4 linked regions of the Homo sapiens genome follow. The protein of the gene in region 3 binds, or shares a complex with, the protein of the main gene of each other region. Each region holds a gene or a part of one and is shown on either strand. Other genes may lie near its edges. The genes, in order: GEMIN5, GEMIN4, STRAP and SNRPD1.

Evidence for each region.
Region 1: STRAP (region 3) and GEMIN5 share a complex: the UniProt entries of both Homo sapiens proteins name them as parts of the SMN-Sm complex.
Region 2: STRAP (region 3) and GEMIN4 share a complex: the UniProt entries of both Homo sapiens proteins name them as parts of the SMN-Sm complex.
Region 4: STRAP (region 3) and SNRPD1 share a complex: the UniProt entries of both Homo sapiens proteins name them as parts of the SMN-Sm complex.

What each region holds. Positions count from the first base shown.
Region 1 is NC_000005.10:154,935,193-154,942,277, forward strand, and holds the start of GEMIN5 (gem-associated protein 5), read right to left. Parts: upstream 3,020-7,085; 5' UTR 2,942-3,019; coding exon 2,776-2,941; intron 1,994-2,775; coding exon 1,833-1,993; intron 831-1,832; coding exon 649-830; intron 1-648. Other genes in the region: MRPL22 (large ribosomal subunit protein uL22m), read left to right, coding at 5,919-5,946, 6,025-6,073. UniProt on the Homo sapiens protein: The SMN complex catalyzes the assembly of small nuclear ribonucleoproteins (snRNPs), the building blocks of the spliceosome, and thereby plays an important role in the splicing of cellular pre-mRNAs.
Region 2 is NC_000017.11:749,265-756,363, forward strand, and holds the start of GEMIN4 (gem-associated protein 4), read right to left. Parts: upstream 3,001-7,099; 5' UTR 2,879-3,000; coding exon 2,869-2,878; exon of another isoform or gene 2,387-2,868; intron 985-2,386; exon of another isoform or gene 733-984; intron 646-732; exon of another isoform or gene 572-645; coding exon of another isoform or gene 550-571; intron 1-549. UniProt on the Homo sapiens protein: The SMN complex catalyzes the assembly of small nuclear ribonucleoproteins (snRNPs), the building blocks of the spliceosome, and thereby plays an important role in the splicing of cellular pre-mRNAs.
Region 3 is NC_000012.12:15,892,376-15,899,409, reverse strand, and holds part of STRAP (serine-threonine kinase receptor-associated protein), read right to left. Parts: intron 5,364-7,034; coding exon 5,267-5,363; intron 4,052-5,266; coding exon 3,914-4,051; intron 1,529-3,913; coding exon 1,392-1,528; intron 1-1,391. UniProt on the Homo sapiens protein: The SMN complex catalyzes the assembly of small nuclear ribonucleoproteins (snRNPs), the building blocks of the spliceosome, and thereby plays an important role in the splicing of cellular pre-mRNAs.
Region 4 is NC_000018.10:21,615,313-21,622,346, reverse strand, and holds part of SNRPD1 (small nuclear ribonucleoprotein Sm D1), read right to left. Parts: intron 1-7,034. UniProt on the Homo sapiens protein: Plays a role in pre-mRNA splicing as a core component of the spliceosomal U1, U2, U4 and U5 small nuclear ribonucleoproteins (snRNPs), the building blocks of the spliceosome.

The sequences.
Region 1 (7,085 bases), on a different chromosome or scaffold from region 3:
TATGCACATTTTTACAACAAACTTTGTGAAAGAGTTGTTGTCTCTTTGTGTATCTCTATTGCCTTAGCCCCCAGTCTTTCAAATCCACTCCAATCAGAATTTCTCCTTCAACATTCTAGGGAAATTGCTTAAGTCTTCAAATTAGAGAAAATAGACATCTTTCAGTGAGAAGTACATGAAATGGTGAAAGAAACGGGGATGTATATTCAGGCAGCTCATGTGAAACAACCTTGGTGATCAACAAGGAAACAGATCCCAATGCCGCATCACTTTCCCAATCTAAAGGGAGCGCTCAGAACTAGAGAGACCCAGCAAAGTCATCTGACACCTGGGAGTTCATGTTGTATCAACGGGCAGTAGAGAAAGCGAAAAAGGTGAAAGAGGACATTTCCTACACGTAAAGGTTGATTGGAGGAGTTAGATCCGAAAAACGAAGAAAGTACAGTACCATGGAAACCAAGGAAACAAAAACGGAGTGGCAGAGACAGTAAAGACCTGGAGGAATAAATGATGCCAGGGGCTCAGGGGGAGTGGTTAACATCTGTAGATGGTTTCCTTTGAGGAATAAAAGGACAGAGAAGGTAAAGAAAATGCAAAACACGATCATAAACAAACAAAAATCATCAATACAGATGGCATAGTACTTACCCAATGGCTACTAAATCTTCATGATGAGGTGAACAAGTAAGACAGAAAATTGTCCTGGGTTCTATAAAGAGGTGCTGGCTGTCATTTCTGTTAAACCAGTAACAGAAAACTACTCCTTTTTCATCCCCAGATACTATTAAGTCCTTTACTCGAGGAGACCAATGTAATGTTGATATCGTATGCTTTAAAACAAAACAAAAATTTGTTATTGTCAATGCTGAAGTTCTACTTAATTTTTAACTTGTATCACAAACCAGCATAATGCTACATATACACATTAAAAGTAATTAATACGGCCGGGCGCGGTGGCTCACGCCTGTAATCCCAGCACTTTGGGAGGCCGAGGCGGGTGGATCACCAGGTAAGGAGATCGAGACCATCCTGGCTAACATGGTGAAACCCCATCTCTGCTAAAAACATAAAAAAATTAGCCGGGCGTGGTGGTGGGCTCCTGTAGTTCCAGCTACTCGAGAGGCTGAGGCAGGAGAATGGCGTCAACCCAGGAGGCGGAGCTTGCAGTGAGCCAAGATCCCGCCATTGCACTCCAGCCTGGGCGACAGAGCCAGACTCCGTCTCAAAAAAAAAAAAAAAAGTAATTAATACTTATTAGTAGTACTTCTATAGCAACACGATATTAACAAAATGGTGGGAAGATTTAGACTACTGGGGATCAAATAATCATTAAAAATTTTTTAAATAGCTTAATGCAAAGTTCTTATTAAGTAGGTCTTTTCCTTTGTTCTCTCAAAAGGCAGGTACATCAAGTAACTATCTAGCTTAGAAATGAGTTTCATTCACGCATTTACAGTCTATATCAGGAGTCCATTTGTATCAATAACCAGAGGGTAATTGTTTTAGACCTTGTGGGCCATACCATGCCTGTTGCAACTACTCAACTCTTGTAGCATGAAAGCAGTCATAGACAATACTTAAATGAATTAGTGTGGTTGTATTCTAATAAAACCTATTTGCAAAAACAGGCACAGAGCAGTTTGCCAACCTCTGGTTTGTATATATCTCCTTTCAAAAAAAGTTGAGACATCTTACAATATAGTTTCTTATCTAATTAATGAACACAATTACAAGTTACTTTGCACAGATGAGCTAGCAAAACTAGCTTGCAACAGAAGAACCCTCAGCACAGATAGATAAAAACGGTTTGAGAAACCAGTAAGCCATGGTACCTGATGGAGTGCATGTTCTGTCACAACTGTTTTTGTCTCTACATCCCATATTTTCACAGTCCCATCGTCGGAGCTGGTGGCACAGAGGTTGTACTGACCAGGGTGATGAGAAAATGTGAAGCCAGAGACCCTTTCGGTGTGTCCCACCAACTCTCCTATGACTTTAAGCAAAACCAGACGCTAGGTTAATCGAAGTGCTATCCAAGGTTCCTGGCAGAATCATACTGTTGTTGGATGACAAGTGAGCAGATGCTTTGGAGTTACTTAACCCATGGTATAACTGAAACACCGACGGACTTACACTCAGAATTCCCAAGTGCTGATATTGGCTGTGCCACGTGACTTCGAACAAGTCTCTGAGCCTCAGCTTCTCAACTGTGAAATGAATGTTGATATACCTTGCTCTGCTTAGTTCACAGACTGGAAAGCAGCTCAAATAATGTGAAAGTGACTCTTATTTAGATGTGGCCAGAATAAATCACCTGGCATGTCATATCCTAAGGCACAATCAAAGCCTAGTTTGGAGCCTGAAAGCATCTGGTTCAACCCATTCATCTTACAGTAAGGAATGCCACACGTTGCAGGATCTTGCTTAGGGCCTGCAGCTGTGGTTAGCCCCCAACCCCAGGAAGGCTCCCGGGGGGCTGGCGCGCACCAGGCTGGGCAGGGGAGCCATATAAATGGCCGAGACTATACAAGGCTAACTTTTCAGTAAGCAAGCGGCCCCACGTGGAAGCTCCAGGAGGCGGGACCGCTCGGCCACAGCATGGTGTAGCTCATTAGGAGACCAGAAGCAACTCAGCTTAGTGACTGTGGGCTGCCTCTCCTCCCAGCCTGGGCCTCAGTTTCCCTAGCTGTAGAAAACGGGGTGGAGTCGTCCACTCGGCGCCCCTGGGGAGCGTACAAAGGGCAGTAAGTCTCGGGCCCAAGGGTGGTGAGTTACCTCGAAACGGGGGTGTCCCTGGACTCTCGCCTGCGCCCGGGCCCACGCGGACAAGGAAGACGGAGGTCCGCGCGGCGAAGCCAAAGAGGCCCCCGGGCACGGCATCGCTGCAGCGGGCGCAGTACCAGTTGGGGGAGGGCGGCAGCGTCCGCGGCTCCTGCCCCATAACTACAAGCCGTCAGAGACAAGAGAAGCTGCCACAGCCGACCGCTCGTAGCCTCACGCCTTAGGTAGGGAGCGGGGCGGGGTGAACTCCGAGCCCCGCCTTCTCGGGCAGTCGCTACGGTGCGCGTCGAGGCCCAGCCAGCACCGCGCGTTGCGTTCCCGCTACCGCCGGGCTGGGAAGGGCGGGACCACGCGTGCTGCACTGGCCCTCAGTACCTAGCCCGCGGTAGGAGGTCCGCCCCAACCCTGGCTAGGGTCAGGTGCTGCCTGAGCACAGCCCCGAGGTTAAGCATTCTCACTTCCCACAGAAAGGCACAAAATTAGAGGATTAGACTAGTGGAACCACCGCCCCAGGCTACCAGTTTATTATTTGGAGCTGTTCAACCACTATCCCGTCCAACGTTTTTTGAGCGCTATGTGCCAGGGCACTTTGCTAGTTGTGGAGGTGTTTTAAAGATATGCACAAGAGGCCGGGTGCGGTGGCTCACGCCTGTAATCCCAGCACTTTGGGAGGCCGAGGCGGGAGGATCACGAGGTCAGGAGTTAAAAGACCGGCCTGGTCAGCATAGTGAAACCTCGTCTCTATTAAAAAACAAAAATAAAATAAAATAATAAAATAAGCCGGGTGTGGTGGCAGGCGCCTGTAATCCCAGCTGCTCGGGAGGCTGAGGCAGGAGAATCGCTTGAACCCGGGAGGCGGAAGTTGCTGTGAGCGGAGATCACGCCACTGCACTCTAGCCTGGCCACACAGCGAGACTCCATCTCAAAAAAAAAAAAAAAGTAAAATGCAACAATCCCTAGACAACAAATACTAGGGAGGCTGAGGCAGGAGAATCGCTTGAACCTGGGAGGCGGAAGTTGCAGTGAGCAGAGATTGCGCCACTGCACTCCAGCCTGGGCGACATTGCGAGACTCCATCTCAAATAAAAACAAAACAAAACAAAAAAAGATATGCACAAGAGGCCACTTAACAAAAATATTGTTGTACCTGAGTGAGTTAGAGAAAACGCCACACTTTGAGACGAATTAAGAGTCCATTTGTTTAGCCGGTGGCCAAGAGATGGCTAACGCTCAAAGTTCTCTCAGCCGGAAGAAGAGGCTAGATTTTCTTTTATACTTTGGTTTAGAAAGGGGAGGGGAGTCTAGTTAAAACAATTTTACAGAAATAAAGTAGGCAAAAAGTTAAAAGGATAAATGGTTACAGGAAAGTAAACAGTTCCAGGTGCAGGGGCTTTAAGACTATTTATTACAAGGTGATAGACTGGGGGCTTTGGGTGCTATCAATCAGACGAATTCCTGGGAATTGCGGATATTGCTCGCCACAGTATCTTATCAGTTAATTGCATCTTGGATGTGCTGGGAGTCAGCTTGCACAAGTTAAGTTCTTGAGGAAGGGGCTGCCAGTGAAAGAGCCAAGATGGAGTCTGTCTGGCTCTCTTAGCTAAGCAAGAGTCAATTCAAGTGGAAACAAGGCTAGGTGATCAGAGGAAAAAGGGAGAGTCTAAAAACAGGGTTAGTAAAAACAAGGTTGGGCATTACAATATGGAGTCCGGGAGACAGGCTGGTGTGAGCTGTGATCGAGCCACTGCACTCAAGCCTGGGCAATAGAGTGAGACCCTGTCTCAAAAAAACAAAACAAACAAAAATATGAAAGTACGAATCTGGAATTAAAAAGGGAAAGAACAGTTTCTGCAACTGGGTGGAAATTCTGGCTCTGGGTTCTGGGTACTCAAAGATGAAGGAGAAGCAAATGGAGTGACTCTTGATTTGCTTGATTGAGGGCCAGCTGTGTGAAGGAAGCTGTATGTGGTAAATGGTGTGGAAGAAAGTTTCCTTTCAACTCAAAAATGCTAAAATGCTCAGATTCTGCACTACTCGTGTGTTGCTTGTTTGCATTGGGTATCTGACATTCCTGCATAGGTAGCAAACCGCAATCTGAACTACCTGTTATTCTAATACAGAGGGGTCAAATACATATATTTGAAGGCGTCTAGGGGCACAAATTTGGAGGCACCTAGTCGTAGATTGATCACTGGTTTGCCAGTTGTTAGTTGAGAGACTTTAACATATCCTAAATATGTTTCCTCATTTGAAGAAGGAAAATGATAATCCATGCCTTGTTGGATTGCTGTGAGGAATAAATGAGATTTAGTGAAATACCTGCCTGACATAAGGCAGTAAATGCCAGATGAATATAAACTCATTCTTGAAGGTCAACCAGATTAGTAGGGATTAGGACAGCATACATCATATTTGAACTATTTGCTCTTTAAAAGAGATTTTAGGCTAGGTTTCGTGGCTCATACCTCTAATCCTAGCACTTTGGGAGGCCGAGGAGGGCAGATTGCTTGAGCCCAGGAATTCGAGATCAGCCTGGGCAATTTGGGGAAACTCCTTATCTATAAAAAATACAAAAATTAGCCGGGCGTGGTGATGTGCGCCTGTAGTCACAGCTACTTGGGAGGCTGAGGTAAGAGGGTGGCTTGAGCCCGGGGTCGAGGCTGCAGTGAGACTAGGTCATTGCTACCACACTCCAGCCTAAGCGAGAGAGAGACCCTGTTTCAATAAAATGAAATAAAATAGCTTTCACACTATTTCAACTGATCTTTACAACAAGCTTGTGCCCTAAGGTTAGTCATTTCTGATAAGAAAACTGAGGACCACCGGATTAGGTGGCTTGTTCACGGATTCTGTTCCCCTACTCCTTTCTAGTTTGTGAGTTGGGACTTTAGTTTTTCTGAATCCAGGTGAATTTTCGGAAGCCCACGTGCTTTCGGCCTTTATTAATTAATTCATTCCCAAGCCAGGTTCGCCTGACCACACCTCGAGCGCCGGCCCAGTGCTTGCGATCTTCGTGACGGCACCTGGGGTGTAAGTACTGCTTGTGGGAGAGCCCCACAGGAAATCCAGAGTATTGCGCATGCGTGCTGTCCAGAAGGCGCTTGAACTCGGCGGCTTCCGTAGCGGGAGGGCGAAAGATGGCGGCGGCAGTACTGGGACAGTTGGGTAAGGATTTCTTAGTGGTTAAGCGACAGAAGGGAGTCGAGATGGAATCTGAGTTGACGGCTTGTGTTGATGTTGCAGGTGCGTTATGGATACATAACCTGAGGAGCCGGGGGAAGCTGGCCTTGGGGTGAGTCTCTCGCTTCGGAGTTTCGGAAGGGCCCAAGGCATCTTTAGTATTCTGCCAGTTGGTAACTGAGCGCCTCCGTGCCTAACTGTGTTTTAGGCTCTGGGGTTACTGAGGCGAATGAGACAGCCCGAGTCTCTGCTTTGTCACTCTATTTTTTCTCCACCTTATTGCATAAACTGTACAGGGATCAGGATTACCCATAACCCAAGGGCGATTGTAAATGCGATTTCCGAACGTCTACTGTGATCTTTCTGGACAAGGTTAGACTATTCCATCTCCATATGGAAGCGTCCAACTTTTCAAGTTACCTCTCTGATTACTTGCTTACATGGGCAGGGACCGTGTTGTGGACAACTCTGCTTTACGTCGTACCTGACATTGTGTTTAGCGGTTTATATGCTTTAACTCACTCTCATAACATTCTACGAGTAGGTTCTGCTATACCCGTTTTTCAGACAAGGAAATTGAAGTCCCCAAACGTAAAATAACTTGCCTAAGGCCACTCAGTTGTAGGAAATTTTGAAGCTTTATACCAGAGCATTCTGTAGCCTTAGGACAAAAGCATTCATTAAAGGTTAGGGTAAGTAGTCGCTGTATTTCTCCCCAAAATAAAAAATCGGTATTTGAAAATTGATAATCTGATTGTAAATTTTCTGGTCTGTCCATTTGTTAGCATTGATTTTGGTTTAGTTCATAGGCTTTGCAGACAGATGAGTTGTATATGAATCCATTTTTTAACTGTGATCTTGGAAAAGTTACTTATTCTTAATAAGCTTCAGTTATCACTTTTATGATATGAGCGTTATGTTAGTACCTATCTCTTAGGATTTAAAAAATTTTTTAATTTTTATTTATTTATTTTTTTAGATGAAGTGTTGCTATGTTGCCCATGCTGGTCTCAAACTTAAGGGCTGAAACAATTCTCTTGCCTCAGCCTCCTGAAGTACTGGGATTACAGGCACATGCCATCTATGTAGCTCTAGTAGATTTTAAAAAGGAAATTCAAACAAGA
Region 2 (7,099 bases), on a different chromosome or scaffold from region 3:
CAGCAGCAATCACACGGCCACAGGGTAATGGGCACAGCAGCAGTCACACGGCCACAGGGTAATGGGCACAGAGCAATCACACGGCCACAGGGTAATGGGCACAGCAGCAATCACACGGCCACAGGATAATGGGCACAGCAGCAATCACACAGCCACAGGGTAATGGGCACAGAAGCAATCACACGGCTACAGGATAATGGGCACAGAGCAATCACACAGCCACAGGATAATGGGCACAGAGCAATCACACAGCCACAGGATAATGGGCACAGCAGCAATCACACAGCCACAAGGTAATGGGCACAGCAGCAATCACACGGCTACAGGGTAATGGGCACAGAGCGATCACACGGCCACAGGATAATGGGCACAGAGCAATCACACAGCCACAGGGTAATGGGCACAGCAGCAATCACGCAGCCACAGGGTAACGGGCACAGCAGCAGTCACACAGCCACAGGGTAATGGGCACAGAGCAATCACATAGCCACAGAGCAATGGGCACAGAAGGAATCAGACAAGCCCTGCCTTCACTCTTTATAAACTTGCCTTGGGAACAGGCTTCAAACATTCTTCTAGCTTTCAGGGAAACGGTCCACCCCACAGCTCCTTCCAGTCAAAAACAAGGTACTCATGGCCCTAGCTCTGTGGGAGAAACCAGGGAGTAGATACAGAAAATACTGTGCTAGATTAAGCCTTCCTTCAGGGAACTAACGATTGACACAGACTTACCATGGAAAACATCTTGGGATGTTTAATCAGACATGGGTTTAAATCCTAGTTCAGCCATTTAAAAATGATGTGATTCTGGCCAGGTTCAGTGGCTAGCACTTGTAATCCCAGCTACTTGGGGGGCTGAGGCAGGTGGATCCCTGAGGCCAGGAGTTCAAGACTAGCTGGGGTAACACAGTGAGACTCCCCCTCCATCTCCGAAAAAAAAAAAGGGATGTGATCTTGGTCAGATTGCTTCTCCAAGCCTTCCTTCTGCATATGTGGGGATAATACAGACTTCATGTTATGCCTTTGGGGATCATGTGATATATACCAGTCAAGCCCTTGCTAGTGGGTTGGCACTGCTATCTCCTGACCCCATCTCCCCGGGACGCTATGATGGATAAATGAGATAGAGCTACAGTAAGAATCCAGTTACAGAGTCTAATTAGGTGCTCAGTAAATGTTGGTTTCCCCAAACCTTTTCATGGTTGGCAAGACCAGAATCTTGTCACTATTCTTTGCCTCCCCCAGCTCAGAAACATCAAAGGATGTAGGTCTTTATCAGGTATGTTTCCTTTGGCCCAGAAACTAAAACGAGGGTGCAAACACTGCTCCCTATTCCTCATTCCTGAGTCATCTCCCCTTTCCCAGGAGTGAGAGATGCTACTCCTTCCTCAGTCTGTCATGCCCCCAAGAGCTCATATTCCCCATTTTCACAGGCCAGACACCAGCAGAGAAAACACTGACTCCAGGAGACTAAGGACCATCTTACCCCTCCCACCATTTATGGGAGCGGCAGCAGGCCAAGGGCTCAGCACTATGTAACCCACTTGTGGAGGCAATCCATCTCATCTCACAGTGGCTGAGACCGACTCCCAGGGAGGGTTACGCTGCGAAGGGGACCTCCCTGGGGGTTACCGCCCTTCTTTCTGGCTCAGGAGGCTCTCCCAGGGTCCCAAAATATAGTCCCTCCTGACGCTGTAAATTTAATTTTATTGCATTATTGGCTTAGTTGAGCAGATGTTTGGCCCTAAACACCTGCCTTCCAGGCGCATTAAGTACGCACAGTTTGAAGTAGTAAGTCCCAGGGCGGTTACTAGCTGGAAAATACTCCGGTACTCTATCATGGATGGTTAACTAGTGCTTGCCACAGCCCGCTTCTTAGGTTTATTAAGCACCTACTCCATGCCAGACACTGTGCTAGGTGGTACACAGGTAAGATCTCTTCTATTCACAATCACCTTTTGAGGACTAGTATTCCTGCTCTAGAGATAAGGACACTGAGGCGCAGAAACGATTTGCTGAGGGTGTCCCAGCCTGAATGTGGTGGGGCTGGGAAGCAATTACGGCTGAGGGGCTCCAAGCCCTTAGAGCTCTGCCATTCCGCTCCTGAAAAGCTGTCTGGGGGCGGGGACCAGACCATTTCCCCCCAGCCTACTACTGCTGACACATCTCGGGGTGCCTCACCCCCAGCTCTCCCAGAACAGCCTCCTGGTCTTAGCAGCGTGTGCCAAGATTTAGCAGGGAGCATCTAGTTCCTATGGGCTCCCTCCCAGACCTTGCCTGTAAGATTCTGAATCCGGACGCACGCAGGTTCACAAAGTGATACCTCAGGAGCGCAGCCGCCCCCACCGCGGGTGTGACCCGCGCAACCCCACAAGGGACACTGTACCTCGGCGATCTCAATGCAAAGTCGCCCAAAACTCAGTGGGGAGACACACTTCCATTCTCCCCGCTCTGTCGATGAGGAAACGTCATGAGCGTAAGACACTTGGAGCGTTAAGACACTTGCTCAAGAACGCAGCTGCCGTTCAGGAAATGAGGCCGTCGGGGCGCCCAGGGGTGCTCGGAGGGAGCCCGTTTCCCAAAGCACGTGCGCGAGCCCCGGGCGCTTCCAAGGGCTCTAACTTCACGTCTGCTCCGTGTTTTCAAGCGCAGGGGGCCGGAGGCGGCAAGACGCGGCCCAACGCGCGGCGGGACCCGGACCACCCCCCGCCAAGGCCACCCCGGGACCCCTAGACCCGCCCCGACGCGGGGGACGTTTCGGTCCGGGCCCGCGCGAGCGTGCGCGACAGGAGGAGACGCGACGGGGCAGCACCGCTCTGGTGGCGCATTGCTGGACGCAGCCCGGGGCCGGGGAGCCGCGGCACCCACCTAGGTCCATGGCGGCGACGCCGGCGGCTGCGCGGGGCTAACGCCCCCTCCCCTCCGAGAACTCGAACGCGGCGCGGGACGCACGGCACGATGGGAGACGCAGGAGCCACGGCGGCCGCGCTTAGGCCTGCTCACAACCTCCGCCCGGCCCCGCCCACAGCCTCCGCCGCGCACGCGCAGTCCTCACGAACGAGCGCGCCAAGCGCACAGCGCCGCCTTCCGGCAGAGCCCTCCCACCAGCCCTCAGGTACCCGGACGTCGCTCACTAGACCCCTCCGCACCGTCCCCTGCCCGGCCCCTCTTCCGGGGTCCCAGCGGGTCGGGCTCATGATTCCCCGGCCCCGCATTCACCCTCACCCGGTAACCCCGGGCGTGCCCCGCACACAGTTCACCCCCACCGAGCGCCTCCCCCGGGACGCCCACCACCCAGCGCGGCCGCACCACGCGAGGCTTCCACTCCCACCCGCCCAGCTCGCGCCACATACAGTCCCTCAACGCGCTCCTGCCGCGCCGCCCCCTCCAGACAGCAGCGTTCCGGATCCTAGACGCTTTTTGACGGCTGGTCCTCCCCAGAAAATGCGCCGTGTGAGCCCAAACATGGTGGGGTTTACGCTGGACCCCGAGCTTGCAATCTGTGCTTGACAAAACACAAACATCGCGTGCCTGTCTCCTCCCCCTGAGATCGAGTAGTAACAGCCACTCCAACTCTCCACCTCCAGCTTCTAGCACCAGGGACCGCCTCCACCACCCCATGTGCCAAGTGGAGTTCGAGCTGCGCGGCCCTCAAGCAGCTGAAGGGTCCCGTGAGCGATCAGGAGAAGCTGCTGGTCTACGGCTTGTACAAACAGGCCACCCAGGGCGACTGCGACATCCCCGGCCCTCCGGCCTCAGACGTGAGAGCCAGGGCCAAGTGGGAGGCTTGGAGCGCGAAAAAAGGGGCGTCCAAGATGGACGCCATGAGGGGCTACGCGGCCAAAGTGGAGGAGCTGACGAAGAAGGAAGTGGGGGGCGTGGAGCGCGAACAAAGGGGCGTGCAAGATGGACGCCATGAGGGGCTACGCGGCCAAAGTGGAGGAGCTGACGAAGAAGGAAGTGGGGGGCGTGGAGCGCGAACAAAGGGGCGTCCAAGATGGACGCCATGAGGGGCTACGCGGCCAAAGTGGAGGAGCTGACGAAGAAGGAAGTGGGGGGCGTGGAGCGCGAACAAAGGGGCGTCCAAGATGGACGCCATGAGGGGCTACGCGGCCAAAGTGGAGGAGCTGACGAAGAAGGAAGTGGGGGGCGTGGAGCGCGAACAAAGGGGCGTCCAAGATGGACGCCATGAGGGGCTACGCGGCCAGAGTGAGGAGATGAGGAAGAAGGAGGCTGGCTGAGGGCTCCTCGGGAATGGAAAGGGCTTCTTAGACCTTGATGGCTGAAATGTCCTGAAACTGTCGCAAGCTTAGCCGAGACATCAATAAATCACTTAAACTGCATGAGAGTGACTGCTGTTGGAAAGGAGAAACTCGGTGACTGAGTGCTGGGGAGGCGTCCAAATACACAGACTAACTTTTTGTATGGTTTTGGGTGGAGTTCCCAGCTCTCCTATTACAAGAGCGTATGTAGGTATTTGGAAGGACGAGGGGGACAGTGTGCTGTGGAAATGCCCAAGATCTGAGGGCAGGAGACCATTCTCCAGTGACAGCCTCTTGGGAGGTTGAGGCCCCAGCCCCTTATCTCTTCAAGGCTGATTTACTAATACCCCAGCACCACAGAGGGGAGAGGGACTCTGTCCTCCTAAACACTAAAGTCAAGTCCAAAAGCCCCCACTGGAACACAGGGCCTACCCGGTTCATGTTTTGAGGGAGACCAAGCTTTCCGTGATGATAATGTGATGAAACAATTGATGCGCCAGAACACAGCAGTTTAGAAACAATGGAGCAGATGGTGTCAAAATCCCAGCCCCAGAAAGGCTCACCTAAGGCCGGGCAACCAAAATGTTCCCGGGACTATTCTGTACTTAACCCTGGTTTCTGCTTAGGGGACGGTGGGACAATATGCATATGGATGTCTATGTGGGATTTGTTGCAAGAGCACAACACACCCCTTGACCTATGCAAGTGCCAGAGTGTCTGAGCCCAGCTTCTACTCCTGTTAATGATCACAGGAGCCTCATACACAACCATTGTGCATGGCGGCTGGAGTATGGAGTAGTAAATGGTATCCAGAAAGGCAGGTCTACGGTGGCATATGGGATTTCCTGGTACTTCTTCTTTAATAGAAACTATCTTCACAGATCATGACATCAGGTCAGCTGCAGTTCTCACTGGGACCAATAAACAATAGAAGCAACAACCATAAAGACTTAAGAGGACAAAGGAAACCAAACCTCACTGTGTGTCTTCAAGATCTGTTCACATAGTTGCAGGAAGTTGCTGTAGACAAAGTACATTACTAAAGAATGAAGCCCACCCAGGACATCACAGCAACGAAAGAACTATTTCTGGTAACTGTGGACCAGGTGAGAGCCACACTGTAGAACAGCAGTGCTGCCCTCTCTTCTTTGGCGAATGTTATGAAGACATTCTGATGCACTTAGGATCATGATTCATGTTAAATGTAAATTAATTGTAAAAATAATACATCTTGCTCCAAAATGTGGTGACAATTTAGAAGCTGTCCACATAGCCAGACCACTCTGTAAATCACAGAACCTAGAAAGTAAAAATGTGCCATAATTAGGACAGCAGAAAGTAACAGTAAAATAAAGTTTTAAAAAAAAAAACAGAAAATAAGGATTTATCTATTTGTATTTGCTTAAGAAGAGGTTACCTATAGGATGCAGGGGGAATGGGATTGATGGGCATGGGGTATACTGTGAAAGGAAAATAAAATCTTGGGACCAAATTCACTAAGCGAAAAGGAAAAGTTAAGCTTGGAAATTGAGTCATGGAATATGCAAAAAACTTCCTTTTGTTCCTAAACAGATAAGCTACAAGACAGAAGGCCACATATCTCCCCAGGTGGTCTCCCTCACCTGACAATATAAATTAACAGCTTATCTTCATAGGTAAGGGACAAAGACAACACCAGAAACCATCCCTCACCAGCCGAGACAAAACATAGATGTACTGAGCTGAATGCATAACTGTTCCTCTGCCTGCTGCTTTCACTGTAACATATAGATTTGGTGAGCAGTAAATGTAGATTTACTGAGCTGAATGCATAACTGTTCCTCTGCCCGCTCCTTTCACTGTAACATGTAGATTTGGTGAGCGCTAAATGTAGATTTACTGAGCTGAATGCATAACTGACTGTTCGTCTGCCCGCTCCTTTCACTGTAACATGTAGATTTGGTGAGCACTAAATGTAGATTTACTGAGCTGAATGCATAACTGAGTGTTCCTCTGCCCGCTCCTTTCACTGTAACATGTAGAGTTGGTGAGCGCTAAATGTAGATTTACTGAGCTGAATGCAAAACTGACTGTTCCTCTGCCTGCTCCTTTCACTGTAACATGTAGATTTGGTGAGTGCTAAATGTAGACTTACTGAGCTGAATGCGTAACTGTTCCTCTGCCCGCTCCTTTCACTGTAACATGTAGATTTGGTGAGCACTAAATGTAGATTTACTGAGCTGAATGCAAAACTGACTGTTCCTCTGCCTGCTCCTTTCACTGTAACATGTAGATTTGGTGAGTGCTAAATGTAGATTTACTGAGCTGAATGCAAAACTGACTGTTCCTCTACCCCCTCCTTTCACTGTGACATGTAGATTTGGTGAGCGCTGATCAAAGCCTAATAAGAATGTAACCACTTATCTCCCTACCTACCCTCCTGTATTTTTCCTTTCCCTCTTCCCTCCCTTCCTGCTCTTTCCCTTTTAAATACTTGTTAGGAATAATGCTCAAAATCCTAAGGAAATAGAACACTCGAACAAAGGATTCTTAGCAAAGCAATTTTACTTCTGTGCAGAGGGGTGCCTCCTTGGCCAGTTGTCATGAGAGCACACCTGAACAAAGGGGCACGAGAGCCTTTGTTCCTGACACAAGTCCTGCCCCTCTACCCTTTCCCCATTGGCCGGGGTCAGGTCGTACAATCTAAACTAATCGCGCTTGGCTAAACATTTGATTTTTTTAGATAGGGTGGGCCCGTAAAAGAAAGCGGAGAGGAAGGGGAAGGGGTGTCTGTAATGAGCTAGAAAGTTAGTCCTCTTTCCAAATAAGGAAAGGAATGTGAGCTGGTACTGATAACG
Region 3 (7,034 bases):
AGATCAACAATGATCCATAAATATTTTAATCCATGGAACCTAATGAGAAAATGTATAGATTAGGAGCACTGTTATATTCAAGTAGTACCTTTAAGTATGAACCTTTCTCATTTACTTTCTAATGCCTCATCACCTTATTAGTTCTCAAAGCCCTTTACTAGACCAATGTTCCTATTCTGTCTCCCATCTGTGTCCCACCAGAGAATAGAAAAGTTGTAAGAGTACAAAGAACACAAGGTTTTGGAAAGAGAAAGGCTAGGCAGATCTGGTATTCACTGTGACTTCAGATCTTGGGCAAATAATTCAGTTCTCTCAATCTTGAAAAAGAATAAAATATGAAACCAAAAACATTCTAAAACTTTGAAAACTAGCATTAAATAAAAGTAACAGAAAAGAATATCTTATTTATAAATCACTTGTATTCAAGTAATAAAAACTGAACCATAAGCAATTAAAATAGATTCTACATGGTCCATCACCAAGGTTCCATTTGTGCAACCCAGATGCATCAATGTTCCCCAAGAAACAAAACGTAAAATTGTCTTTTGTTCTTTGGGTGTAATCTAGCAAGCTTCGTTCTTTGGTAAAGCAGGGCAGCTAGAAACAGACAAGAACAAGAAGAGACAGCTTATAGATAAAAATATATATTTATAAAAACTAAACATATTTTTGACCTAAAAGCAAAAACTATTTGGAAAGGCTAAAAGTAGATACTGAGAACCACATGTAACTATGTGAAATACCTGGTCCATCAGATAAATATACATTAACTTCAAATTAATCCCCATGCCTTTCCCTTTCCCTTACTAAGGACTGTTATCATGAAAATGAAAGCAAAACTCAAACTCCAAAACAGAATAAATAAAAAGCTGATAAAAATAACTATCCAATTCAGATTCCTAAAGGTATCCCTGTAATATGCTATACTGATTTTTCCCCCACACACTGTTCTTTACGGAGTCTTAGGAATTCCTAAGTTGGCAAAAAGGAAGACGGGCCAAGTAGATGGGGTTATACACCCACAACATAGTTCAGAAAGAACGGATCTCCTTGCATGTGTTTAGCATATGACTTTGACATAAGATTCCCCCCTCCCTCCCAGCCAATAAAGCCTAAAACTCACTGTACCATAATACATAACATCAGCATAATGATGAACTTTAGTTAAAAGGATAAATTTCTGCATACTTTGTTTACAGATCTATAAAAGCATCTGACCCAAATGGTTAAAACTCCTTTACTTTTTCACTTGTAAGCACCAAGCTTAAGTTAGCTGAAAAATTTACTTTCAACATATATATGTAACATATATATATATATAAATGAGGTGTTAATTACTGGGACTTAACATATGATAAAGGTAACCACATCACTGTAAGGGGACAACTCACCTAATTCTTCTCCACTATTATAATCATACTTATAAAGTTTAAAATCTTCACCGCCTGCAACAAGAAATTCTTTCTCAGGATGAAGAGATGCAGAATTGATGGTTGCAGGAGCTTCAAAGGATTTAATTGGGTCCAAACTGAAAAAAAATTTAAGTAGTATTTACAAATCTTGAATATGGTATAAATAACGAGTTACATTTGAACTGTTCTTAAATTCTGAAACCCAAGGAACAATTAAATACTCATTTACTCAAACATAAACACTGATGTAAAAAAAGCTGTTAGCAAAAAAAAAAAAAAAAAAATCAAATGGATACTATGCCCAAGTGGAGCTCATCTCAGCAATACAAAGACATCTTGATGGAGGGATATCCAGTTTATGCAGTGGATGTCTTCCCGGAAATGAGTGTGTTGGCTAATTAAAACAGTATGAATAATACACTGGGATTTTTGCTCTTAAATAAACTTCACCTGTATTGTTTCATTTTTCTACAACCACATATTATCTTTGTAAACAGAAAAAGTTTTCACAGTAGGTAATTAACATAAAGGATTATTTATATATTATTATTAATTGCTGAAGGTTTAAGCTCCTCAGCAAGATAAACTTTCTATGTCATAAAATATAAACTGCTGAAAACAGTTTCTACTATAAGGCAGTAAAAGACTAACAAAATTTGGGGCTATAGTTATATAATAAAAATCAATGCATAATAACAGCTTCATCTGAAATTCAATTACAGTTTGGACATTAGCTTTTTCAGTTTAACCCTAAAAATCATGAAAGGCCTCCAATACAAAACATTATAGTATCCCAGCTCCTAAATACTTCCCATCATCATATACTTTAAAGCATGTTAATTAAAGTTAGTCATGACTTATGCAGGATCACTACATAGCAACTTGCTGGCTCAAATGCTAGAATATTCAATGGTCCAGAAAATTTCTGCCACCAACATGGGATTTGCCTAACTGCAGGAGTGAGTGAAGAGCATTAATAAACCAATTGATGGCTCCAGGCCATAGTATTCTACTACTATCAGTTTACTGTATGTGTATAAACTCCTTGACATTGCTTAATTGCTCTCCTCCAATTTTACCGCCTTTTCTTTCTCCCAGTTAGCCCTTTAGACACAAGGTTAAGACACTGGTCAAATATCAAAGTGTAATGTGGTATAATCCTTATGGAAATCAATTAAGTGTCATGTATAACTAAGAACTTTAAACTCATTTCTAGCCTTTGAACTGATAATTCTACTTACAGGATCCTATCTACTGTAAAGAAACACTCAGAGATGTGCTAGAACATTCACCGTGGTGCTAAAACAGGGAAACTAACCCATAATTTAGTACAACCTATGATGCAAATACAGTGTATCAAGTAAAAATGTTTTCAAAGAAGTTTTAAATGGCTAACAATATTTTTAAACAAATCAAAATGGTATTCATTATGGTCCTAGTAATTAAAAAAAAAAACACAAATACTGTACACCCACATATATAACATAGAAAAATGGACTAGCAGAAAATATAACTACCATTATCACTCTTGCACCTATGGGTATAATATTGTGGGTACATTTTTTTCAATTATGTTATATATTCCAGTCTTTCTCCAAGAGTATTTACTACATTTAAAGTCGCAAAATTCAAATCTGTTTAAAAAATTCATTAAGTCTGCAAATACTCAGGAACAGAAATAAGATTATTCCTTCTCTAAAACTTTAAGGTGAAAATAAATAGTAGAATCAAGATCACACTGTTTTTTTGTTTTTTGTTTTTTTTGAGACAGAGTCTCACTCTGTTACCCAGGCTGGAATGCAGTGGTGTGACCACAGCTCAAAACAACCTCCACCTCCTGGGATTAAGCAATTCTCCTGCCTCAGCCTCCCAAGTAGCTGGGATTACAGGTACTCACCACCACACCCAGCTAATTTTTCTTCTCTTTGTATTTTTATTTTAGAGACGGGGTTTCACCATGTTGGCCAGGCTGGTCTCAATCCCCTAACCTCAAGTGGTCCGCCCACCTCAGCCTCCCAAGGTGCTAGGATTACAGACGTGAGCCACCACGCCCAGCCCACACTGGTTTTATATAGTAAAAAACATTAATGACAGCACCATTTCAGTAGTTTTTGCTTTTTTTTTTTTTTTTTTTTCAGAGGAGGTTTTGCTTTGTCATCCAGACTGGAGTGCAGTGTCAAGATCACAGCAAAATGCAGCCTCAACCTCCCAGGCTCCAGCAATAGAATACTCACCTCAGCCTCCCAAGCAGCTGGACTACAGGCGTGTGCCACCACACCCAGCTAATTTTATTTTTTGTAGAGATGGGGGTCTCACTGTGTTGCCCAGGCTGATCTCAAGCCATCCTCCCACCTCAGCTTCCCAAGGTACTGCGATTATAGGCATAAGCCACCACTCCTGGCCTCTTTACTTTTAAAAAAAGTAAATACCTTCCCATTTTTAAGTAGCCAAAATGTCTTTTGTTACCTAAAAAAGAAAATGAAAGTATTTCTTGGACATACCTTACTGCACTATGAAAAGCAATAGATCGTCCATAAGTTATAACCAAAATCTCTCCCTCAGGAATATATTCCATACTACTAACAGACATATTAAAATTTAGAGATTTCACTTCTGTCATAGTAGCATGATCCCAAAGTCTGCAAAATAAAGATAAAAATATGATGTTTACTCATGTAAGAAAAAAGTTTATAAATTCTAATTACATCTGCAGATTAGCCAACGAAAGAACAATCACAATTACAGAAAAACAACATTCATTCCAAGTCACAAATTACAGATGATTAAAAAAAATTCTGGGTTTCTATATACAATGTCAAATTATGCATGATAGCTTGTAAGTAAAATCAACTTTAATACCTACATACACTTCCCAATTTGGCAAAACTACATTATTAAGACAAGTTCTAATCTAGTCAATTTCAGCATTGCTATAAATAGTGGTTCTTACACTCTGTTTTTGTGAATCTAGTAATAGCTACACATCTTTCCAAAGAAATATACATCAGGTGTCAGCACACAAGATTTTGTATAGAATTTCAGAGGCTTCATGGTCCCTCCCTTTAACCATTCTGCCCACAGACCCAGGTTAAAAACACCTGCTTATAAGGTATCAGCAATTTAATTTTCTTCTGAATTTTGCTGTCTGTATACACAAGGTGAGCATCCCTTAATTGAAAATACTTGGGACCAGAAAAAAGTTGGATTTCAAACTTTTTCGGATTTTGGAATATTTGCATTAGACACTTACCAACTGAGAATTCCTAACCTGAAAATAGGAAATTCAAAATGCTCCAATGAGCATTTCCTTTAAGCATCAAGTCGGCACTCAAAGTCTCAGATTTCAGAGCGTTTCAAATTTCAGATTTTCAGGTTAGGGATACTCAACCTGTATTAGTAAATAGATAGCTCCAGATAAATGTGACCTGGGTGCAACTTAAATTTTAATGTTCAGAACATTTTTCACACATAATATTAAATGTATTTAAAATATAAGCTCTAAGGTAAAATATTTTGCAAATTTTAAGTTTGTTTTTCTTTTGAGACAGTCTAGCTCTGTCGCCCAGGCTAGAGTGCAATGGCACGATCTCGACTCACCGCAACCTCTGCCTCGCAGGTTCAAGTGATTCTCCTGCCTCGGCCTCCCGAGTAGCTGGGATTATAGGTGTGTGCCACCGCGCTTGGCTAAGTTTTGTAATTTTCATAGAGACAGTATTTCGCCATGTCGGCCAGGCTGGTCTAGTACTCCTGACCTCTAATGATCCACCCGGCTCGCCTCCCAAAGTGCTGAGATTATAGGCGTGAGCCACCATGCCCGGCCTTAAATTGTAAATTATTAAAGAAAAATTACTTACCGAACAGTTTTGTCATCAGCAGAAAGAATCTGTTTATCCTCACTGCACCACAGAGCTTTTTTTATACCAGAAGTATGACCACTAATTTCCTTAGGTTCTTGAGATAAAACAATTTAAAGTACATTTGTTAATATATGATTTTTTAAACTGAACAATATCGGAACAATTATATATTTTTAAAAACACACATTTTAAATTAGACTGCAACTTTTCAAAGCCCAGCCCAATTCAAACTTGATGTTTATATAGAATACAGTTAGTTTTTCTATATTGGAACATAAATTTATCTGCATGACAGGGACCCAAGGAACTACCATGCTTGCTATATGTAGCTGAGTGAATGCACCACTCACTCCCTCTAGGCTAAATTTCTGCACAACTGATAATATTCAAAAGCATTATTGTATAATAAATAAAAAGTATTTTATATTTATTATATGTATAATAAATATAAAAGCATTATTGTATAATTGTATAAGTATAATAAATATAAAAGCATTATTGTATAATATACAATATTTATTTGTACAATAATACAAATATTATTGTATAATATAAAAGCATTATTGTATAATTGTATAAGTATAATAAATATAAAAGCATTATTGTATAATAAATAAAAAGTATATATTTATTATATGTATAATAAAAAGAATTTTATATATAATAAAAAGTATATATTTATTATATGTATAATAAATAAAAAGTATTTTATATATAATAAAAAGTATTTATTATATTATTAATAAAATAATTAACGTGGCATAATTTAATAAGAACACGGACTCAGGAACAAAACAGTTGAATCTGATTGCAGTACTATGGCTAACTCTGGGACGTTTATCCAAGCAGCTATTGATAGTAAATAATGAGAAATAAGGGTTGGAAGGAAAAAAGGGAAATAGAAAGTGGGACAGCAATTCCCAAGAATGTTTCTACACTGTGAGGAAAACATAAAAAAAAAGGAAGGGAGCTTAAATCTGTAGGAGATTATCCTTTCGAAGAACTTCAAAAAACCCTCACTGCTGTCTCTAGGGGCAAAAGCAGACACTGGAGGCAATGCCATTCAACACTATTTTCACCTTTGGGCATGTTACTTAACTTTTTAACTTTATTTCCTCATCTGTAAAATGAGATAACAATGGTTACAAATGCGAATAGGGCTTAACAGATACCCGATACACAGTAAAACCTCATTTTATTTTCTGCTGCCAGCACAGCGAAAGAGCAACTTTCATAAAACAGCTTTGGGAAAGGTAAAGAGCATGAAAAATGTCAACCCAATCCCTGAACTACCTTGCTTTGACCCAATCCCTGAACTACCTTGCTTTGTTGAATGGGTTCATAGAAGAAGTGAGGTCAGAGTCCTTTGCTATGTTTTGGCATAGATTTATCAAAAAAGAAAGGAGAAAAAAACTTCTACATGCAATGGAGAATAAAAAAATCTGCAAATGCGCTTTGTTTCCTCACCTTAAAAATGTTTTCATAACAAATTACTGTAACATTAAAATGTAAAATATTTTAAAAAGTTCTCAGAAATGGAAGGTATCTCAAGAGAATAACCGCTTAATTTCCAATGTGGTTCTGACTCTCTTATTACTCTTTAAAATTTTATAGATTTATGACTACATAAATGTCCACATAATAAAATCTGAAAGATACCAAATATATAATAAAACAAAATTATGTTTGTCATGTTTTGGTAGCTAAGTATATATATGGTGAGGGAAATTATTAAAATATTATAAAATAAACATGTAGACTGGGG
Region 4 (7,034 bases), on a different chromosome or scaffold from region 3:
AACATGGTGAAACCCCGTCTCTACTAAAAAATACAAAAAATTAGCTGGGCATGGTGGCGGGCACCTGTAGTCCCAGCTACTCGGGAGGCTGAGGCAGGAGAATGGGGTGAACCTGGGAAGCAGAGCTCTCAGTGAGCCGAGATCACGCCACTGCACTCCAGCCTGGGCAACAGAGCGAGACTCCGTCTCAAAAAAAAAAAAAGAAATAAAGAATTACAGTCGGTAAAAAGATTACAAGCTTATTATAATGCCTATAAAGTAAAAATCTCCCTTCCTAACCCCCTGCACTGTGGGTATGTAGGAATATTATTCCAGATCACTTTATATGCATTCAGAAGGATATATACAGATTTCTTTTGACATAAATTGGGTCATATTTTATTCACGTCTATAACTTGTAGTCCTCGTTTAGCAGTTTATATTGGACATATTTCCATTTCAACATACAAAACATTCTAAGAACTGAGGCTGGGCGTGATGGCTCATGCCTATTTATAATCCCAGCACTTTGGGAGGCCGAGGAGGGCGGATCATCTGAGGTCAGGAATTCAAGACCAGCCTGGCCAACATGGTGAAACTCCATCTCTACAAAAACACAAAAATTAGCTGGGCAGGATGGCGTACGCCTGTAATCCTAGCTACTCAGAAGGCTGAGGCAGGAGAATCGCTTAAACCTGGGAGGCAGAGATTGCAGTCAGCCAAGATCGCACCACTGCACTCCAACCTGGGGACAGAGCAAGACTCCATCTCAAAAAAAATTAAAAAAAAATAAAAATAAATTAGCGAGGCAAGGTGGCGCACGCCTGTAATCCCAGCTACTTGGAAGGCTGGGGCATGAGAATCGCTTGAACCCGGGAGGCAGCATTTGCAGTGAGGTGAGATTGTTCCACTGTACCCCAGCCTGAGTGACAGGGCAAGACTCCATCTCACAAAAAGCCAAAATAACAAAATAACATTCTAAGAACTGGAAAGTATTCCACTATATGGAAATGTCAAAATTTATTACCGCCTGTTGACGGACATTACTTTGGTTCAATTTTTTCCCATTACAAACCCAATTATGCAAACCCTCACCAACACAAGTTGCTATAAGTCTTTCAAATTTTTGTCAATTTGATGGGGAAAAAATTTGCTTTTCCTTAATTACCTGTGAGATTGAATATCTTATCTTTTTTTTTTGACACAGAGTCTCGCTCTGTCACCCAGGCTGGAGTGTAGTGGCACAATCTCGGCTCACTGCAACCTCCGCCTCCTAGGTTCACGCCATTCTCCTGCCTCAGCCTCCCGAGTAGCTGGGATTACAGGCGCTCGCCACCACACCTGGCTAATTTTTTGTATTTTTTTTTTAGTAGAGACGGGGTTTCACCATGTTAACCACGATGGCCTTGATCTTCTGACCTCGTGATCCACCCGCCTCGGCCTCCCAAAGTGCTGGGATTACAGGCATGAGCCACCGCGCCCTGCCTGAATATCTTTTCATTAACATGGGAAAACTATTTCTTCCGTGAATTACCTGTTCACATTATTGACATTCTCAATTAGGTTGAGTTTTTCTTTTATTTTCTACTGGTTTGCCAGTCATTCAAGTTTGTTGTTTATGGTTTCTTTAGTCACACAAACTTTTTTCACTTTTATGTTTTGAATTTGTTCACCCTCCTGGGATACATAATTTACCTAAGAAAGGGTTTTTTCTATGCCAAGATTGTAAAAAAATAGTGTCTTATTTTCTTCTACTTTTAGAGTTCTAATCTACTTGGAATTGATCTTTTTTATGCAGTGTAAGGCACAAATCTGTCTTTATTACTTTCCCCAACTGAATAGCCAGTTGCCTTGATAATATATAATGAACAATCTATCCACTTCTCACTTCATCTAAATTTCCGTTCTCCCCTTTTTATAAAATTTTGCAGAGGATGAAAAGTTAAAGGGTTTACAAATATTGTCAATTGCCAGTGCAGTGGCTCATGCCTGTAATTTCACCACTTTGAGAGGCCAAGGTGGGATGATCACTTGAGGCCAGGAGTTCGAGACCTGCCTGGTCAACAAAGCAAGATCCTGTCTCTACAAAAATAAAAATAAAAAAAAAATTAGTTGGCCGGGTGCGGTAGCTCATGCCTGTAACCCCAGCACTTTGGGAGGCCAAGGTGGGCGGGTCACAATGTCAGGAGTTGGAGACCAGCTTGGCCAATATGGTGAAATCCCATCTCTACTAAAAATACAAAAAATTAGCCAGGTGTGGTGGTGCAGGTCTGTAATCCCAGCTACTCAGGAGGCTGAGGCAGCAGAATCGCTTGAACCTGGGAGGCAGAGGTTGCAGTGAGCCAAGATCATGCCATTGCACTGCAGCCTGGGTGACAGAGCAAGACTCCATCTCGAAAAAAATACAAATAAAAAAATTAGCTGGGCCTGTTGGCTCATGCCTGTAGTCTCAGCTCCTCGGAGTCTGAGGTGGGAGGATCGCTAGAGCCCAGGACTTTGAGGCTGCAATGAGCCATGACTGTGTCACTGCCCTGGAGCCTGTGTGGCAGAGCAAGACTCCGTCTTTTTTTAAAATTCTATTTTTTTTTGAGACGGAGTCTCGCTCTGTCACCCAGGCTGGAGTGCAGTGGCATGATCTTGGCTCAATGCAACCTCCACCTCTTGGGTTCAAGCAATTCTCCTGCCTCAGCCTCCCAAGTAGCTGGGACTACAGGCGCCTGCCACCACACCTGGCTGATTTTTGTATTTTTAGTAGAGACAGGGTTTCACCCGTTGGGCTGGTCTCGAACTTCTGACCTCAGGTGATCTGCCCACCTTGGCCTCCCAAAGTGCTGGGATTACAGGCGTAAGCCACCAGGCCTGGCCCTTTTTTTTAAAGACAGTCTTCGCCAGGTGTGGTGGCTCATCCCTGTAATCCCAGCACTTTGGGAGGGCGAGGCAGGCGGATCACCTGAGGTCAGAAGTTCGAGACCAGCCTGGCCAACATGGCGAAACCCCGTCTCTGCTAAAAATACAAAAAAATTAGCCAGACTTGGTGGCACTTGACTGTAATCCCAGCTACTGGGGAGGCTGAGGCAGGAGAATTGCTTGAGCCTGGGAGGCAGAGGTTGCAGTGAGCCAAGACTGCACCACTAAACTCCAGCCTGGACAATAGAGTGAGACTTTGTCAAAAAAACAAACGAAAAAAAATTGATCACACCATCTCAAAGTAAGTTGTAGGCATTACGACACTTCAGCATGCATTTTCTAATGACATTCTCCTATATAACCATAATCTCACAATCACATCTAAGAAAATGAACCCCACACTATCATACAATACACAGTTCATATAAAAACTTTTAGTCTATAATATATACTTTGAATTAACAGATCCTATCATCACACTAAATGGTACACATAAGATAACCTATTATCCTCCCGCACTAGACTATTCTTGAGGGTAGGGATCGTAAGCTCTATATCTAATCCTAGACTGTAATAGGCACTGAATAATGTTGGCTGAAATGTTTTAATGAATAAAGGGAAACCAACCTTAAAATGCCTTTTTTTAATTTCTTTTTTTTTAGTGGTATAGACAGCCATCACAAAAAAGAAATTACTTGGTCTGGGATATAACAAGCCTCAAACTTTAAGAAGACTCATGAGTTGAATCTCTTTTTATATATGACATCAAGAAAACGTTTTTCTCAACGAATTGGTAACACTTTATTTCACCAGAGAGTTATTCAGCTCCAAATTTAACAATCAATTATAACTAGAAAAGCCTAGAATTCTGAACTAATGGTTTCCTCCCATTATCAAGTTTTTGTTTTTATCTTTTACACGAATTTACTATCCCAGTTAGTAAGAACTTTTACTATAAAAGTTCTTCAAATCATTTTTGGAAGCAAAGAAGATAAATAAAAGGAAAAAAAAAACCTTATGTGGCCAGGCGCGGTGGCTCAGATACATAAAAGATACGTAAAAATAACTAAGTTGTAGAAAGCAATAAAGATATACAGAGGTTTTTTTTGTGTTTTTTTTTAAACAGAGGTTTTTAGTTTAGGTTTTTTCTGAGACTATGCCACCATGCCCGGCTAATATTTTTTAAATTTTTAAATTTTTTGTAGAGATGTGGTTTTGCCATGTTGCCTAGACTAGTCTTAAACTCCTGAGCTCAAGCAATCAGCCTGCCTTGGCCTCCCAAAGTGCTGGGATTACAAGCGTGAGCCACTGCACCCAGCTACACACAGGTTTTTTACTAAGAATATATTGTAGCATGTGGAGAGGGGAGTCAGGTATTAGGGGACTCCTAGTAAGAAGCCTGAAAAGTTGGAAATATGCAGCAAGAAGAAACAAAAGAAAAAATACAGCATAAGACACAGAGTAATTATAGATACAAAGATGGAGTCTTGTTCTGTTGCCCAGGCTGGAGTGCAATAGCGCAATCTCAATCTGAGCTCATTGCAACCTCCGTCTCCCGGGTTCAAGAGATTCTTGTGCCTCAGCCTCCCAAGTAGCTGAGACTACAGGCGCATGCCACCACACCCAGCTAATTTTTGTATTTTTAGTAGAGACGGGGTTTTACCATGTTGGCCCAAGTGATCTGCCTGCCTCGGCCTCACAAAGTGCTACGATGACAAGCATGAACCACCACGCCTGGCCGATGAAATGTTAAGTTCAATATTTTAGGTCCTATGAGTAGAGAGGAGTTAGGCAGGTTCCTTTCATGGAAAGCCTAAGCTCTGTTAAAGAATTCCTCTAGGAGAGCTACTGAAGGATTTTCATCAATGAAGTGGAGTACCAGGCTCATATTCACATTTAAAAGAGAACCTAGGGCCAATGTTCAGAAACAGATTTTAGAAAGACAAGAGACCAAAGTATAATCTCTAGGAAGACAAATTATGTGACTAGAGCAGTACATATACAAGTTAAAACTACAGTAATCGAGACATAAGGAACAACAAATAGATCAATGAAACAATACAAGCAAACAGATCTATTTCTGGTCCCACATTTACATGGTTGATTTAGCTGGGATTACAGGCACTCGCCACCACAACCAGCTAATTTTTGTATTTCTTTTTGTTTTAGTAGAGCCGGGGTTTCACCATGTTGGTCAGGCTGGTCTCGAACTCCTGACCTCAGGTGATCTGCCTGCCTTGGATTCCGAAAAGTGCTGGGATTACAGGCATGAGCCACCAAGCCTGGCCTTATATGGTTGATTTTTTACAAAGGTGCCAAAGACGTGTAACAGGCAAAGGAAAGTGTTTTCAACAAATGATGCTGGAATAACTGGAAATCCATACAGAAAAAAAACGAACCTGGACCACTAACACCATTTTCCAAAAGTAATCCAAGATGGATGATAGTCACTTGAGCCCAAGAGTTCCAGATATAGGCTGGGCACAGTGGCTCACGCCTGTAATCCCAGCACTTTGGGAGGCCAAGGCAGGCAGATCACAAGGTCAGGAGATCGAGACCAGCCTGGCCAAAGTGGTGAAATCCCATCTCTACTAAAATACAAAAAAAATAAGCCAGGCATAGTGGCACATGCCTGTAGTCCCAGCTACTCGGGAGGCTGAGGCAGGGGAATCACTTGAACCTGGGAGGTGGAGGTCGCAGTGAGCCGAGAGTGCGCCACTGCACTCCAGTCTGGCAACAGAGCAAGACTCCATCTCAAAAAAAAAAAAAAAGACTTAAAGAGTTCCAGATACATAAAAATCGATCAGTCAGGCATGGTGGCTCACGCCTGTAATCCCAGTACTTTGGGAGGCCAAGGCGGGTGGATCACAAGGTCAGGAGTTCGAGACCAGCCTGACCAACATGGTGAAACCCTGTCTCTACTAAAAATACAAAAATTAGCCAGGCGTGGTGGCAGGCGCCTGTAATCCCAGCTACTTGGGAGGCTGAGGTAGGAGAATCGCTTGAACCTGGAAGGCAGAGGTTGCAGTGAGCTGAGATCGCACAATTGTACTCCAGCCTGAGCTACAAGAAGAGAGACACTATTAAGGAAATGAACATGTAAACCACACACTGAGAGAAAACACATCTGACAAAGAACTGGTATCCAGGACACAGATCTAATTTCTACAACTCTGGGCTGGGCGCAGTGGCTCACGCCAGTAATCCCAGCACTTTGGGAGGCCAAGGCGGGCGGATCACGAGGTCAGGAGATTGAGAACATCCTGGCTAACACGGTGAAATCCCGTCTCTACTAAAAATACAAAAAATTAGCCGGGCGTGGTGGCAGGCGCCTGTAGTCCCAGCTACTCGGGAGGCTGAGGCAGGAGAATGGCGTGAACCCAGGAGGCGGAGCTTGCAGTGAACCAAGATCATGCCACTGCACTCCAGCCTGGGTGACAGAGTGAGACTCCGCCTCAAAAACAAACAAATAAGCAAAAAACCGACTAAACCCTAAGGAGATACCACTACATACCCACTAAAATGGCTAAAATTAAAGACTGAGCAAACAACACCACATACTGGTGAGGATGTGGACCAATTGTTATTCTAATATATTGTTAATGGAAGTGTAAAATGGTACAACCACTTTGGAAAATGGTCTGGAAATTTCTTAAAAAGCTAAACACATAACTATGTTACAGTCCATCAACTCCACTCGAGTATTTACCCACGAAAATTTGTTTCCCTCCAAAAACCTGAAGAATATTCAACGTAGTTGTAAACAAAATACATAACTTTTTATTTTATTTTCTTGTAATTTTTTAAAATACGGAGCTTTTTTTTTCTTTTTTCTTTTTTTTTGAGACGGAGTCTCGCTCTGTTGCCCAAGCTGGAGTGCAATGGCGTGATCTCAGCTCACTGCAATCTCCACCTCCTGGGTTCAAGGGATTCTCCTGCCTCAGCCTCCCTTGTAGCTGGGATTACAGGCACCTGCCACCATGCCCAGCTACTTTTTTGGTATTTTTAGTAGAGATGGGGTTTCACCATGTTGGTCAGGCTGGTTTCAAACTCCTGACCTCAGGTGATCTACCCGCCTCGGCCTCCCAAAGTGCTGGGATTACAGACGTGAGCCACTGCGCCCGGCCTAAAATACAGAACTTCCAAAC